2 separate regions of the Homo sapiens genome follow, and region 1 is linked to region 2. A link means that fine-mapping ties the variant in region 2 to the expression of a gene that starts in the linked region. Tissue or cell type: whole blood. Region 2 holds a variant in brackets; the other region holds the start of a gene. All regions are shown on one strand. Distances are from middle to middle.

What was found. PIP is the estimated chance that this variant, and not a neighbour inherited with it, causes the effect.
Region 1: it holds the start of MANBA, and the variant in region 2 is fine-mapped to the expression of MANBA in whole blood (INTERVAL, PIP above 0.99).

What each region holds. Positions count from the first base shown.
Region 1 is chr4:102,757,028-102,765,215 of GRCh38, reverse strand. It overlaps MANBA (mannosidase beta), which reads left to right and starts at 4,248. Exons shown (of 17, transcript NM_005908.4): 1 at 4,248-4,498. The coding sequence starts at 4,322. RefSeq lists a silencer at 4,084-4,213 and an enhancer at 4,304-4,653.
Region 2 is chr4:102,692,894-102,701,081 of GRCh38, reverse strand. The region is part of intron 5 of MANBA (mannosidase beta); the gene reads left to right. Among named protein-coding and RNA genes, the nearest start is that of MANBA, 64 kb to the left of the region's middle. The variant A/G (reference allele first, on the strand shown) is at 4,216.

The sequences.
Region 1 (8,188 bases), 64 kb before region 2:
CTGTTGACATACCCTCAAGCTCAGAGATTCTTTTCTCAGCCGTGTTCCATCTACTAATACGCCATTCTTCATTTCTGTTATGGTGCTTTTCATCTCTAGCATTTTTTATTATTTTTTAGAATTTCCATGTCTCTGCTTACGTTACCCATCTGTTTTTGTATGTTGTGTAAATTTTCCATTAGAGCTCTCAGCATATTAATCATAGTTATTTTAAATTCCTGGACTGATAATTCTGACATTCCTCCCATATGTGAGTTTGGTTTTGGCATTTGCTTTGTCTTTCCAAGTTGTATCTTTGGCTTTGTAAATTTTTGTTGAAAGCCATACATGACATCCTGGGTGAAAGGAATTGCCATAAATAGGCCTTCAGTGATGTGTTGGGAAGGTGTTGGGAGAGGGAAAATGGTCTATTTTCCTCTGATTAGGTCTCAGTCATCTAGTGAGCCCAGTCCCCTGGACTGTGAACTTCACAGTGCTTCTCAGCTATGTTTCACCCCCTTAGATGGGGCAGAATGTCTATGGGGGGCTGGAGTTGGGTATTTTCCTTCTCCCAGGCTGGCGAGACTCTGATAAAACCCCAGTTGGTTCAGCTCTGGTAAAATTGTTTCTTTTGAGAGTGGGTCTTGTTAAGAAGCACAGAATCTCTGGCACATTCAGAATAGTTACTTTCCTCCTCCCTTGCAGGAAACACGAGAGGATTTTTCTTCAATCTTCACTATGAGAGCTTTGTGGAGCTCCTGGAGGCAAACTTACAAAAGCACAGCTGCTCCCCTAAGACTGGGCCCCCTTGGAGTTTTTAACTCTCAAATTTGTGCATATTGGTCCTCCAGTAATTTGTCAATTATAGTCCAGGTCTTCCTACTCTGTACTGGTTCCCACTGAGATTTCAGCTATGGGACAACGGTTGTGGGGTAGTGTGTGTGGTCTACTCAGTTAAGTTGTAATTGCCTGTATCTACCTGTCTACATCTCTAATTTTGGGGCAGCAGTCTGCCCTGTGACCTCACTTCTTTGACTCATCTAAGAAGAGTTGTCTATTTTCAATTTGTGCAGCTTTTTACTTGCTTTTTAGGATAGAGTGATGACTTCCAAGGTCCTTACATGCCAGGCCAGAAATTGGAAATCTATTATTGTTTTGACCCATGCATTATTTAGGAATATAATATATTATATTCCTAATTATATAATTATATTATATAATATAATTATATTATATATTTTTATATATTTATATTATTATATAAATTATATATATTTAAAATATATATTTGTATATGTATGTATATATGTATATATACAGTATATGTATGTATGTATATATACAGTATATGTATATATATACGTATATGTATATATGTATATATACAGTATATGTATATATATACACAGTTTGCTGACATAGGCCATGTGTCCTCTAGTTGACTTCTTGGACTCTCTTGGGTAGAATCCCATTATACTGGCTCAAGCCTGGTTACTTCCTACGGTGTCCTCTTGGTTTATAGGAAACTCATGCATATGCATCCTTGACACACCAAATTCTAGTGGTGTACATAGTTTCCACTACCTTCTCTCTTTGTTCTAACATTTGGGGCTTCAAACTCTGGGGAAGTATGTCAAACCTTTGGGCAGGATACTTATGGGCTATTATCCCCAGTCCTGGGGTTTAATCAGACACTATGAGTCTAAAGGCAAATGTCCACTCCACATCTGATTACTCTTTCATTTTCTTTCCCTTATTATAACTTCTGTAATATATCATGGGATTGGAATATCATTGGCCTTGGTATATACCATGGTGTTCTAATGAGTTTACCAATTTTATATATTTAGATATGAAGGAAATGTTGTCATATAGCAAAGGGCCTAACTACTTCCATTGGTCTGTTGTGACAGGATACTGACCCTACACATCATTTAATCACCGTGGGCATTATTTATCTTTTTAAACCAGGGAACGATCACTTGTTCTAAATAATTCAAGTTTTGGGAAGCATCAAATGAAATGATCAAAATGAAATCTGTTTATACAGTGTAAGTTAAAGATACCCATAACTATTTTAAACATTGCATTTGGTATCATGACTTTAAATTACATAAGTTGAGAAGTTTTATGTTATCTCTAAATAAGGTTTATTTACCAGAAAATCATGGACAAAAATTATCCTATAACAAAATGAAAACATCATGTCATCTGTGCCAATTGCAATTTTAGGAAGAGTACTTATTAGGGCTTTGATTATTCTTTGATGTTCTCTGTTGTCAAAGTGAAGTAACCTAAATGATGTTATGCTTGCATCCTGGAATGAAAGGAGGAATGAGAATCTTCTATTATTGTTTTTCTAAAAATTATATTTCTTAATAAACAGAATATATCCATATGTATCATCAAGGATGAATTTTCCTCTGATTTGGCTTAATGAAATCTCTGGGAATTATGAAAAAATTCCTTTGCCGCTCTTGTTGCCATAAACCTTGTGTTATCAGTGTTGCACAGACCATGGCTAGCCATTTAATGCCGTGAATTATGGCATATAATTTGAATTGAGAGCTTTGTTTCTATCAAAGGTAAAAATGCTTCTGGAGTGAGTGAGGAAGGCTTTGAAGCAGTGAGAGCGTTTCCCCTATAGCATCATTGGGCTCTGACAGTAGGACCTTGAAGAGGAGGGTTCTAATCCTGTCTGCCACTATGTGACAGGCAAGTCACCTGATCTTTTTTTTTTTTTTTTTTTTAGAGTCTTTCTCTATAGCCCAGGCTGGAGTGCAGTAGTGCCATCTCGGCTTACTGCAACCTCTGCTTCCTGGGTTCAAGCGGTTCTCCTGCCTCAGTTTCCCGAGCACCTGCGACTACAGGCACGTGCCACCACGCGCCCAGCTAATTTTTGTATTTTTAATAGAGACAGGGTTTCACCATGTTGGCCAGGCTGGCCTCGAACTCCTGACCTCAAGTGATCCACCCGCCTCGGCCTCCCAGAAGTGCTGGGATTACAGACGTGAGCCACCGCGCCTGGCCCCGATCTCTTTGAACTCAGTTCCCTCATCTGTAAAGCCAGCGGCTTGGGTTGGATAATCCATACTGTCCTTTAAGCCAAGATATTCAGGGCTTGTAAATAATGCTGACTTTGCAAAGTAAGATATTGCCCGGTGTCTGCAGAATCAGGCAATTCCAAGGCCATTGTAAGGCGAAACAAAGCTCAGATTTGATGAGAGAAAATTTCTTTTCAAGGACTTCTTCCGAAGCATAAATATACGGCAGATAGCGTCAACACAGGAGAAAGGCAGTCTATTTTATGCAATGTAAAATTCCGTCTTAACTTCTAGGATTACTGTTACATCCTATTGCAAAAATGGGACTCAGGTAGACCATTTGACTACAAGACCCGAAATAAGTCAGTGGTATTTCTTGGGTACTCTGGCATTGTTAGGGACGATCACATATGTTTACTCATTTTATACTTATAACACCTTGAAAACTTCAAGAAACGGAGATGGAGATTTTGCGGCTTGCCCAGGTCCCACAGCTAGTGAGTGCAGAGGATTTTAAACTCAGCTGCGCGCCTAGTGCAGGTTCCAGAACCTCAGAAACCTCCGTGGGGCTTTATGAAACATAAGGACGCAGGCCGCTAGTAACAATAGCTAACGTGAATGCCTTCTCTGGGCCAGGCTCCATGCTGCATGCTATAGTCGCATTTTCTTGGTTAGCCCTCAGAACAACCTTCTGATGGAGATACTGCTAGTACTTGTTTACTCTTTGAAGGGCGGGGTAGGCTCTGAGACCCGCGAGTTGAGCTGCAGCGGGGTGAGTGTTACGCTACCAGGTAGACGAGGGTCTGTGTAAATTTGGCGGAAGGGAAGTGGTGGGTTGTCTCCCAGTTTGGGTTCTCTGAAGGAGTGAGGGGACTCTCCAGCTATGGTCTCCACGTACAGTCGGTCTCTGATCTCCCGAGGCTTTGTGCCACTGCGCGCCCAGGGATCTTTCTGTCCCAATTACCGTGCAAGATTCTTGCCTCCAGTTGTATGTACTGAGGCGGCGGGAAGAAGCGCCGAGGGAAGGCTCAGACCGCAATGCCCCCCAGCCTGTAGCTATTCTCGGGGGCTGCAGCTCCCGCACCCGCGACGCCCGGCTTTCAGCGGGTGCAGGCGCAGCCTCCTCGTTCCCCTCCCGCCCGCGGCTGCGCCCGGAGAGCGCTCAGCTGACCTAGGGGCGGGGCCGGGGCGGGGACCTAAAGCCTCGGCTACTTCCGAGGGGGTGAGTGGCTTCACCGCCGGTCCCTTGCAGCGCTGCCTTTCGATCTCTCCACATCTCGGTGGCGCGGGATCTCAAGATGCGCCTCCACCTGCTCCTGCTGCTCGCGCTGTGCGGTGCAGGCACCACCGCCGCGGAGCTCAGTTACAGCTTGCGTGGCAACTGGAGCATCTGCAATGGGAACGGCTCGCTGGAGCTGCCCGGGGCGGTCCCTGGCTGCGTGCACAGCGCCTTGTTCCAGCAGGGCCTGATCCAGGTATGGCGTGCGGCCGACCCGCGGCGAGCCTGCGCCCGCCTTCTTCTGGTGCTGAGAGGGGCCCAGGAACCGCCTGGCAGCCCCCAGCTCTGGGCCATTCTCGTCGGTTTGGTAGTAACTTCCCCTTTGCATCTTGTGATCTGCGGGGGGAAATGCCCAAGCTATGGGGTACGGGCTTGACGGAGACTGAGCGACCGACCCATGTTGGGACATCAGTAACTCTGGAAAGGGGAAGTTTAGATAGGGGAACAGTGTTGCTACTAGCAGTTTACTTACTGCAGTCGTTCTCTACTGAAGCGTGTATACAAAGGGCATGCCGTCACTGACAAGCATAAGGTCGGGAATTACTGTCTCTACTGTCTGCACGCCACAGGGGACAACAGCGTTTTGTTAAGTAAGGGTTAACTCTATTGAGTAATGTCTCGGTTTTTTATTTTCGCTGTTAAGCGTCAGGGAGTCAGATTTGGGATTGACGCAGCACAGACGTTGTGGAGAATGACCTACAAGAGTAAAGTTGGGTTTGTCAGTGCTAGTGTGGCTAACAACGGGTAAATAATTTTTAAGGCTAACTTGGTGATGAAGAAAGGTGCTATTTCCTCTCAGGGCGTGTGTGTGTGTGTGTGTGTGTATCCCAATGGAGTCTCCAATTTACAGACTACTTGTGGGGAACGTTTTCGTGTTTGGCTGCCTGTGCGCATAGGTTTGCAAACTGACTTCCATCCTCCAACTGCTTTTGCTGTTCCCTCTTGCACAGCGTTCCCACGTGTTGTCTTTACTTGGGGCAAAATGTACTTGTAATTGATCTACTTGTGGGATGCATACATTGTCCAATCCTCATAACAACTCTGTATAGTAAGTGTTCATATCTGAATTTTATGGATAATATGGAATTATGGAACACAGAGAAATTAGGAAGGTGACAGCAACTAAATGGAAAGAAATGGAATTCTAACCCAGGTGGTCTCAACTCCATAGCCTGGTCTCTATACTATGTGGTATGCTTAGTTTGGTGTTTTAAAAAATCATGTGTTTTTGAAGCACTGTGGCTGACTTTCAGGAGCACCATTCTAAGTTTATTTGCATGACAAGGTGGTCATCTAGGGTTGTGCCAAATTTCTGACCTGGTACTTAGTAGTTTTTTTTTTTTTTTTCCTGAGATGTGTATCAGAAAGGAGGTGAATGTTGTAAATGACATTGACCATTGTCCGATGTATTTTTAGAGTAGATCATTCCCAAACTTTAGTACTTTATTTTAAGTTGACAAACTACTTGTGATAGAGAACACAGCTGACCACAGTATACTCTGAGTTTTCACTTATATCTGCTTTGAGAATGCCTGTGTTTATTTTGTAGGGTTCCTCCTTGCCTGATTTTACTGAAATAATTAAGCCAATGGGTGCTGGTACGTGAGAGCTTTGGGAGGCCAAGGTAGGAGGATCCCTTGAGTCCAGGAGTTCAAGACCAGCATGGCCAACATAGAAAGAGTCTATGAGGCCGAGGTGGGAAAATTTCTTGAGGCCAAGAGTTCAAGACCAGCATGGCCAACATAGAGAGATTCTATCTCTAAAAAAAAAAAAAAAGAAAGAAAGAATTAAGCCAATGGGAAATAATGAGTGGCTTCAGTAAGTCAGATTATTGTGCCATATTACAGAGCTAAGAAGCTAAGAAACAACGTTTGGTTACAACAGATACTTAATGAAAATGAATTTGCTCATAGTATGAAATAACTTCCTCATAGGAACAATTTGAAGAGATTTCTTAACTCTCTTCATAAATTCTTAGCAAAACCTTGAGGTTTCAATCAGGTGGCCATGGGTCTCAAATGGCAGTGGAATGAGAAATGGGAAGGCTTTTGGGGCTTAGGAAACACAAGGCCTGTTGAAAATAATCATCAGGCTGGGCACAGTGGCTCATGCCTATAATCCCAGCACTTGGGAGGCAGAGGTAGGTGGAGTTTAGACCAGTCTGGGCAACTGGCGAGACCCTGTCTCTACAAAAAATTAAAAAATTAACTGGGCGTGGTGGCGTACACCTGTGGTCCTAGCTACGAGGGAGGCTGAGGTGGGAGGATCGTTTGAGCCCAGGAGGTTGAGGCTGCAGTGAGCCGTGATCTGTACTCCAACCTGGGCAACAGAGTGACACCCTCTCTCAAAAAAAAAAAAAAAAGAAAAAAAGTAAAGAAGCAATCATCAACATCAGATCAGTATCGTTATTCAGTAATGTGAGACTGTTGTCCGACCTGCTTTATTATAACATCCCTTTTTGGTGTTGACTTGAGGAAATATTCTACCGTTTATAGTAGACACTGGGCCAAATATTGTGTTTGTGTAAGAACTTGAAACATATCTTGGTGATATCATTCATTTATTTATCTATTCACCTAGTTAATTATCTCATATTTATTTTGTACCTCTAATGTGGCAGGCACTATTCTAAGTACTTGAAATCGAGTGGTAAAGAAAACAAAGTCCTTTCCCTAATGGACATTCTAATGGAGGAGATAGACATATATACCAAATTAATAAATAATGTAAGGCAGGTGGCACACTGAAGAAAAATTGAGCAGGTTAAAGGAAGAGACAGTGAAGGCTGGTTGGAAAGCATTGCTATTTTTTAAAAAGTGGTTCAAGATAGGTATTTTGATAAGGTGACTTCTAAACAAAAAGACCTGTTTGAAAAGGTCACTTTTAAGGAGAAGTGCATTTCCAGCAAAGAGGAAAAACACAGGAGTGGGGAGGATAGAGGCCCTGAGGCAGGCACGAGCTTGACAAGTTTCAGGAATAGTCAGCAGGCCAGTGTGGCTGGAGACCTGGGAACCAGAGGGTAGGAGAGGAGTTCAAAGTCTAGGGCACATCATGAAAGGCTGTGAGCCATAGGAAACACTTTGGCTTTTATTCTACATGTGATGGGAAGTTATTGGAGGCTTTGAGCTTAGAGTAGCATGATTAGATTTGCCTTTTTAAAGGTCACTCTGTTGTGTGAAGGCTACAGTGCAGGAGAGTGGAAGCCTGGAGACCAACCAGGGGACTATTGCTGGTCTATGTATGGGCAAGAGATGACTTCTGGCTTGGACAAGCATGGTGGCAGTGAAATGGTGAGAATGGTTGTGAGAACACGTTTTACATGTAGAAACAAGAGGATTTCTTCAGTTGGATTTGTTAATGGATTGGGAGACAGAAGGGGGAGGTGCAGGAAAATACCAGGATTTTTTTTATCTGAGCTGGTTAAATGAAATTTGTATTTAGTGAGAGATTCTGTGGCTAGTCTTGGCTATTTCCTAGGTGATTCTCTGGGTTTTCTGTACAGAATCTAAACCTTTGGTTTCTTAGAGAGTCTTTTGGGTTCTCTGTGAAAAGTTATTCCTTCAGCCTGCTATTTTTTTTTTTTTGAGACGGAGTTTCGCTCTTGTTGCCCAGGCTGGAATGCAATGGTACTATCTCGGCTCACCGCAACCTCTGCCTCCTGGGTTCAAGAGATTCTCCTGCCTCAGTCTCCCAGGTAGCTGGGATTACAGGCATGTGCCACCATGCCTGGCTAATTTTGTACTTTTAGTAGAGACAAGCTTTCTCCATGTTGGTCAGGCTGGTCTTGAACTCCCAACCTCAGGCCATCCACCTGCCTCGGCCTTCCAAAGTGCTGGAATTACAGGCATGAGCCACCGTGCCTGGCCCTCAGCCTGCTATTATGCCA
Region 2 (8,188 bases):
AAGAGCTAACTATCCTAAATATATATGCACCCAATACAGGAGCACCCAGATTCATAAAGCAAGTCCTGAGTGACCTACAAAGAGACTTAGACTCCCACACATTAATAATGGGAGACTTTAACACCCCACTGTCAACATTAGACAGATCAACGAGACAGAAAGTTAACAAGGATACCCAGGAATTGAACTCAGCTCTGCACCAAGCGGACCTAATAGACATCTACAGAACTCTCTACCCTATATCAACAGAATATACATTTTTTTCAGCACCACATCACACCTATTCCAAAATTGACCACATAGTTGGAAGTAAAGCACTCCTCAGCAAATGTAGAAGAACATAAATTATAACAAACTATCTCTCAGACCACAGCGCAATCAAACTAGAACTCAGAATTAAGAAACTCACTCAAAACCGCTCAACTACATGGAAACTGAACAACCTGCTCCAGAATGACTACTGGGTACATAACGAAATGAAGGCAGAAATAAAGATGTTTTTTGAAACCAACGAGAACAAAGACACAACATACCAGAATCTCTGGGACACATTCAAAGCAGTGTGTAGAGGGAAATTTATAGCACTAAATGCCCACAAGAGAAAGCAGGAAAGATCCAAAATTGACACCCTAACATCACAATTAAAAGAATTAGAAAAGCAAGAGCAAACACATTCGAAAGCTAGCAGAAGGCAAGAAATAACTAAAATCAGAGCAGAACTGAAGGAAATAGAGACACAAAAAACCCTTCAAAAAATTAATGAATCCAGGAGCTGGTTTTTTGAAAGGATCAACAAAATTGATAGACCGTTAGCAAGACTAATAAAGAAAAAAAGAGAGAAGAATCAAATAGATGCAATAAAAAATGATAAAGGGGATATCACCACCGATCCCACAGAAATACAAACTACCATCAGAGAATACTACAAACACCTCTACGCAAATAAACTAGAAAATCTAGAAGAAATGGATAAATTCCTCGACACATACACTCTCCCAAGACTAAACCAGGAAGAAGTTGAATCTCTGAATAGACCAATAACAGGATCTGAAATTGTGGCAATAATCAATAGCTTACCAACCAAAAAGAGTCCAGGACCAGATGGATTTACAGCTGAATTCTACCAGAGGTACAAGGAGGAACTGGTACCATTCCTTCTGAAACTATTCCAATCAATAGAAAAAGAGGGAATCCTCCCTAACTCATTTTATGAGGCCAGCATCATCCTGATACCAAAGCTGGGCAGAGACACAACCAAAAAAGAGAATTTTAGACCCATATCCTTCATGAACATTGATGCAAAAATCCTCAATAAAATACTGGCAAACCGGATCCAGCAGCACATCAAAAAGCTTATCCACCATGATCAAGTGGGCTTCATCCCTGGGATGCAAGGCTGGTTCAATATATGCAAATCAATCAATGTAATACATCATATAAACAGAACCAAAGACAAAAACCACATGATTATCTCTATAGATGCAGAAAAGGCCTTTGACAAAATTCAACAACCCTTCATGCTAAAAACTCTCAATAAATTAGGTATTGATGGGACGTATCTCAAAATAATAAGAGCTATCTATGACAAACCCACAGCCAATATCATACTGAATGGGCAAAAACTGGAAGCATTCCCTTTGAAAACTGGCACAAGACAGGGATGCCATCTCTCACCATTCCTATTCAACATAGTGTTGGAAGTTCTGGCCAGGGCAATTAGGCAGGAGAAGGAAATAAAGGGTATTCAATTAGGAAAAGAGGAAGTCAAATTGTCCCTGTTTGCAGACGACATGATTGTATATCTAGAAAACCCCATTGTCTCAGCCCAAAATCTCCTTAAGCTGATAAGCAACGTCAGCAAAGTCTCAGGATACAAAATCAATGTATATAAATCACAAGCATTCTTATACACCAATAACAGACAAACAGAGGGCCAAATCATGAGTGAACTCCCATTCACAATTGCTTCAAAGAGAATAAAATACCTAGGAATCCACCTTACAAGGGACGTGAAGGACCTCTTCAAGGAGAACTACAAACCACTGCTCAATGAAATAAAAGAGGATACAAACAAATGGAAGAACATTCCATACTCATGGGTAGGAAGAATCAATATTGTGAAAATGGCCATACTGCCCAAGGTAATTTATAGATTCAATGCCATCCCCATCAAGCTACCAATGACTTTCCTCACAGAATTGGAAAAAACTACTTTAAAGTTCATATGGAACCAAAAAAGAGCCCACATCGCCAAGTCAATCCTAAGCCAAAAGAACAAAGCTGGAGGCATCACACTACCTGACTTCAAACTATACTACAAGGCTACAGTAACCAAAACAGCATGGTACTGGTACCAAAACAGAGATATAGATCAAGGGAACAGAATAGAGCCCTCAGAAATAACGCTGTATATCTACAACTATCTGATCTTTGACAAACCTGAGAAAAACAAGCAATGGGGAAAGGATTCCCTATTCAATAAATGGTGCTGGGAAAACTGGCTAGCCATATGTAGAAAGCTGAAACTGGATCCCTTCCTTACACCTTATACAAAAATCAATTCAAGATGGATTAAAGACTTAAACGTTAGACCTAAAACCATAAAAACCCTAGAAGAAAACCTAGGCATTACCATTCAGGACATAGGCATGGGCAAGGACTTCATGTCTAAAACACCAAAAGCAATGGCAACAAAAGCCAAAATTGACAAATGGGATCTAATTAAACTAAAGAGCTTCTGCACAGCAAAAGAAACTACCATCAGAGTGAACAGGCAACCCACAAAATGGGAGAAAATTTTCACAACCTACTCGTCTGACAAAGGGCTAATATCCAGAATCTACAATGAACTCAAACAAATTTACAAGAAAAAGACAAACAACCCCATCAAAAAGTGGGCAAAGGACATGAACAGACACTTCTCAAAAGAAGTCATTTATGCAGCCAAAAAACATGAAAAAATGCTCATCATCACTGGCCATCAGAGAAATGCAAATCAAAACCACAATGAGATACCATCTCACACCAGTTAGAATGGCAATCATTAAAAAGTCAGGAAACAACAGGTGCTGGAGAGGTTGTGGAGAAATAGGAACACTTTTACACTGTTGGTGGGACTGTAAACTAGTTCAACCATTGTGGAAGTCAGTGTGGCGATTCCTCAGGGATCTAGAACTAGAAATACCATTTGACCCAGCCATCCCATTACAGGGTATATATCCAAAGGACTATAAATCATGCTGCTCTAAAGACACATGCACAGGTATGTTTATTGTGGCACTATTCACAATAGCAAAGACTTGGAACCAACCCAAATGTCCAACAATGATAGACTGGATTAAGAAAATGTGGCACATATACACCATGGAATACTATGCAGCCATAAAAAATGATGAGTTCATGTCCTTTGTAGGGACATGGATGAAATTGGAAATCATCATTCTCAGTAAACTATCGCAAGAACAAAAAACCAAACACCGCATATTCTCACTCATAGGTGGGAATTGAACAATGAGAACACATGGACACAGGAAGGGGAACATCACACTCTGGGGACTGTTGTGGGGTGGGGGGAGGGGGGAGGGATAGCATTGGGAGATATACCTAATGATAGATGACAAGTTTAGTGGGTGCAGCGCACCAGCATGGCACATGTATACATATGTAACTAACCTGCACATTGTGCACATGTACCCTAAAACTTAAAGTATAATAATAATAAAAAAATAAAATAAAATAAAGATTTGTCAGTCTTGCTTATTTGATAAGCATGCATTTTTTAATGCATTCATTTGGAATCAATTTTTCATTCATCTTTAAATTATTTTTTCCATAAAATAATCCTTGAAAATAACTTTATGGGTATTTTGCTTGAAATACCCATAGAGAGGGTAGGTTGCTTGAATAATTTTTCCTGTGATTAGTCTCCTCATTGCTTGAGTAAATTTTCTTCTTTGGAGCTTACTAACTTATCCTTGTTCTAGGAAACATTTTGCCTTGCGTCTCTTTTGCCTTGATTTCAGTTTCAAGGATTTTGTACTGCTGAGTAGGTAAGGAGATCTTGCTGCTTGGTGAAGAAGAGGGAAAACAGCTGTTTTAACTAACTGTGGGCCAACATTTTTGGCTAACGCAATGGTTAGCTCTTTGAAAAGCAGCTGCTTAAGTCTGTCCCATGATTCTGGCAGGAGTACCGGAAAATATCTAATGTTTGAATTT[A/G]TAAATTCCATGGCTTGTTCATTTCATTTGGTGTCATTGCTGTTTCTTTAAATGCACATAACTACCTTTCCCTGCAGCTTTTCATACTCTATTAAAGATGGAGGAAGAAGAGAGCCTGCAAAAGGGGGAGCTGTGAGGAGCTCAGCAGGGCAAAGCTAATCCAGGCAGCTATCTTTGAATAGGTTTTCCCCCCAGTGAGATGAAGCATCTTTTTCATCTACCAGTGTTTGCAGATTCATCCCTTGCTGACTTGAATGTGCCCTGCCTCTGAACTTTCACTGCCCTGCTAGTCCTTATGGTTCCTGATGCCATCCTGTATTCTTAACTGCGACACTTGGGTATATTTTATCTTTCTAAATATGTTCAGAGAGTTAGAGACAACATATTTGCCTTTTTGGATTGGGATATAATTTATAATGCCTGTCAAGGTTTTACAGACAGTAGTTATTCAAGAAATAGATTTCATTTGCTTGACACAAATGCTCACATAACTATTTTAGTGCCTTTTCAGCTAGTTTAGGTTACAAAGACAGTATTTTGATAAGTACAGGAACTGTGGCATCATATAAATACACGTTTAGCAGAGGGTCAGACATATTCTCTATGTTTGTAGATTTCAGTGTCCTTTCTTTTTTTACTTTGAGACAAAGTCTCATGCTGTTGCACAGGCTGGAGTGTAGTGGAGCAATCTCAGCTCACATTAGCCTTGACCTCCTGGGCTCAAGCGATCCTCTCATCTCAGCCACTGAAGTAGCTGGGACCACAGGCGTGCCACCACACCCAGCTAATTTTAAAATTATTTTTAGAGATGGGGTCTCATTATGTAGCCCAGGCTGGTCTCAAACACCTGGGCTCAAGAGATCCTCCTGCCTCAGCCTACCAAAGTGCTGGGACTATAGGCACGAGCCACTACACCCTGCCCATTTCAGTATTCTTTTTTTACAGAGACCCTCTTAGGCTAACATTTTATTATTACAGTGCCCCCAGAATGCTTTGTTTTACATTGAATATATTCGACATTTGGCTTTAGGACTCTGAAAGGCAAAAAGTACCTTTGCTTTTGCTTTTCCTCATTATTCATATACAAATGTCAATCGTTGTGTACCTGTGAGTGTCATTCCTTTTGGTAGGCATCGCTGCGAGAGGCTCATGGAAAGTCGAGAGCACCAGAGTTAGGAAACCTGGACCCTTGGCCTGTCCACTGGCTCAAGAGGGAAGTGCTGCAGTCAGGGCCTCAGAAACATCTGCAAAGTGATGAGAACATCTCCAAGTTTCTTCTACCTCGAACATTTTGTGGTTCTTTTCCTTTGTTTGTAAGTTAGAATAGTCATTACCACCCAATGAGGGTATAAGTATGGAACAACCCAGTTTTTCTTGAAACTAGACATCACATGACTAGATGAAAACATTGATACTTGAGTCTTTATTACAATCAATTAAAGCAAGGTTCAGTGTATAGTTTGGGAGTATGTCTTCCTGTTACTTTTTGACAAACTTGAAGTAATGTAACTGAGTCCTCTTATTTTTCTACTTTCTATATCTCTCCTTATACCTTTTTCTCCTAGACAATTGAATAAAGCTTTTTTTCTTTTTTTTTGGCTTTTTGTCCCCCCTCCAACTACATCTTAATAAAGGAGTAGACTGTATGAGAATATAAGAGGAAGCTGGCGTATTTGAGAAGATTTTGAAGGCTGATGTACTGGACACATCTACATGAGCTAGAGTTGTCTTGTGATACTCTGAACGAAGGAGCAGTATACATTAATCTAGGCTATGTAGCTGTTTACCTTTCTACAAATTCCCATCCAGGTCAGACACATTGTGCTCTTTGTTTTTTTCTTTTTTTAAAGAACACTCACTGAGTCATCTCTGGGAAAACCTTAAAGCGAATTAGTGGCCAGAACCACATTCTCTACCATCCTCTGGGTTGCCTTCCTGATTGAGGTTATATGAACAAACTGTAGAACATAATCTCTTCTGCTTGGGCTTAGGACATCAGCGAGGACACCAATAAGCCTTCAGGCCAGGGAGGGCCTCAAGGCCTTGAATTGTGGAGAGGGCAGGCCAGCATTGCCTTTGCACCTGTTTTGATAAAGAATTCCTGTCCTCTTTGTGCTGAGTTGTTTAGTCAAAGTGAAGAGAGGATGCAGAACTTGGTGGTGTGATTGGAAGGATGAGCTCTGTAGGGGATTCTAGAAGATGTAGCAATCCTTCTTTCCTGCCCTCACCCCCAGTACTTCATCCATTTTTGAAGTGATCTTGCATTTTACTTCAGGAGAGCTGGTGATGATAAGTGTTCTTCAAGACATGGTGACTTATTAATGCTAGGAGAGAGATGATAGGAAGCTGTATTCTAGAAATGGGGCTTAATTTATAAGATGGAGTTCTTCTTAACTACAAATAGGATTATGCAATTTATAAATTTAATTTAGCAAGTGAAAAGGAGTGACCAAAGAACATCAGGAAAACTACTGGTTATTTAAGACTTTGCGCCTTGTGAACCTAAATTACCTACTTTTCCATGTGCTACTGGAAGGAAGGGGTTTACTCTATTTGAAAGAAGAGGAGAGGGGAAAAATATGTTATTAAGTATATCTGGTGATAACTTTGTAGGCTTGTAGATCTTCATACTGTGTTTTTAATTCTACAACCTTAGTTTTTTCATTTAGTAGTTCCCAGGGGTGTTAACGGGTGATGCTCTGGAGGAGTGCGGACTTGCTCGAGAACCTTCCAAGTTCAAAGCAAGAGAAACTGGGGAATTTTGCCGATGACCTTTGAGGATTGCATTATTTGTTTTCCTGTCAGAGGCTGTCACTAACAGCTGATTCTCCTACTAAAGAAGAAGTAACAGAAAACAACACAGGAGCCTGCTTCGTTGGTAGGAGGTGCTCAAAGGACAGAGCTAAAATCTTTAGTTGGATATTAAGGAGAAGTATATTTCAAATTCAGTGTAAAGGGAGTCTTTACAATAGCCAAGCCTGGCAAAAATGGGAAGGCTATTTTGTGAGGCAGAGGTTTTTTTGTCATTAGAGATATTTAAAGAAAGGTTGGAATGGCCTTTTTTGGGGGTAATATTCTAGGGCAGGGATTAGCAAACTTTTTCTCTTAAGGATCACATAGTAAAATAGTTTAGGCATCTGTCACAACTACTCAACTCTACTGTTGTATTGCAAAGGTAACCAAAGACAATAAGTAAACAAATGAGCATGACTATTAAGTTAGTCTGCTCTGGCTGCCCTAAGAAAATACCATAGGCAGAGTGGCTTAAATAACAGAAGTTTATTTCTCGTAGTTCTGGCAGCTGGGAAGTCCGAGATAAAGGTGTTGGCCCATTTGGTTTCCAGTGAGGGCTCGTTTCCTGGCTTGCAGACAGATGCCTTCTTGCTATGTCCTCACATAGTAGAGAGAGAGACGGATATCTGTTTCTTCCTCTTCTTATAAGGCTGCAATCCTAACAGATTACTGCCCCACCCTTATTACTTCATAAAAAGCTGGAGGTTAGGGCTTCAACATAAGAATTTTAGGGGAAGAGTCCACCATTTAGTCCATAACATCTGTGTTCCAATAAAAGTTTATTTATAAAAACAAGAGGTGGGCTAGATTTGTCCCAAAGACCATAGTTTGACAACCTATTGAATAGAGGAAATTAAACACTGGTGAGCGAGCAGACTAGGTGATCTACCAGCTGATAGATTCAAAACCTGGAGGCTATCGGTAAGTAACCTGCAAAATTAACTGGATCAGAACAAACCTAACTCAGAGCTCATCGACTAGTATTTCTCAGAATAAATCACTTAATAAACAAAAATAGTTCTTAAGTCCAGGATTAATTTTACTTCAATGTGCATCAAATCTATGCTTTTGGCTGATGGGAGATGCGAATGATAAACTGTGCTGGGGTCATCTTTAGAACAGGCCTGGTGTGCTCCTACAGTTGTAAACAGTGCCGGTTATAACGTCTTTTGTCATTGAT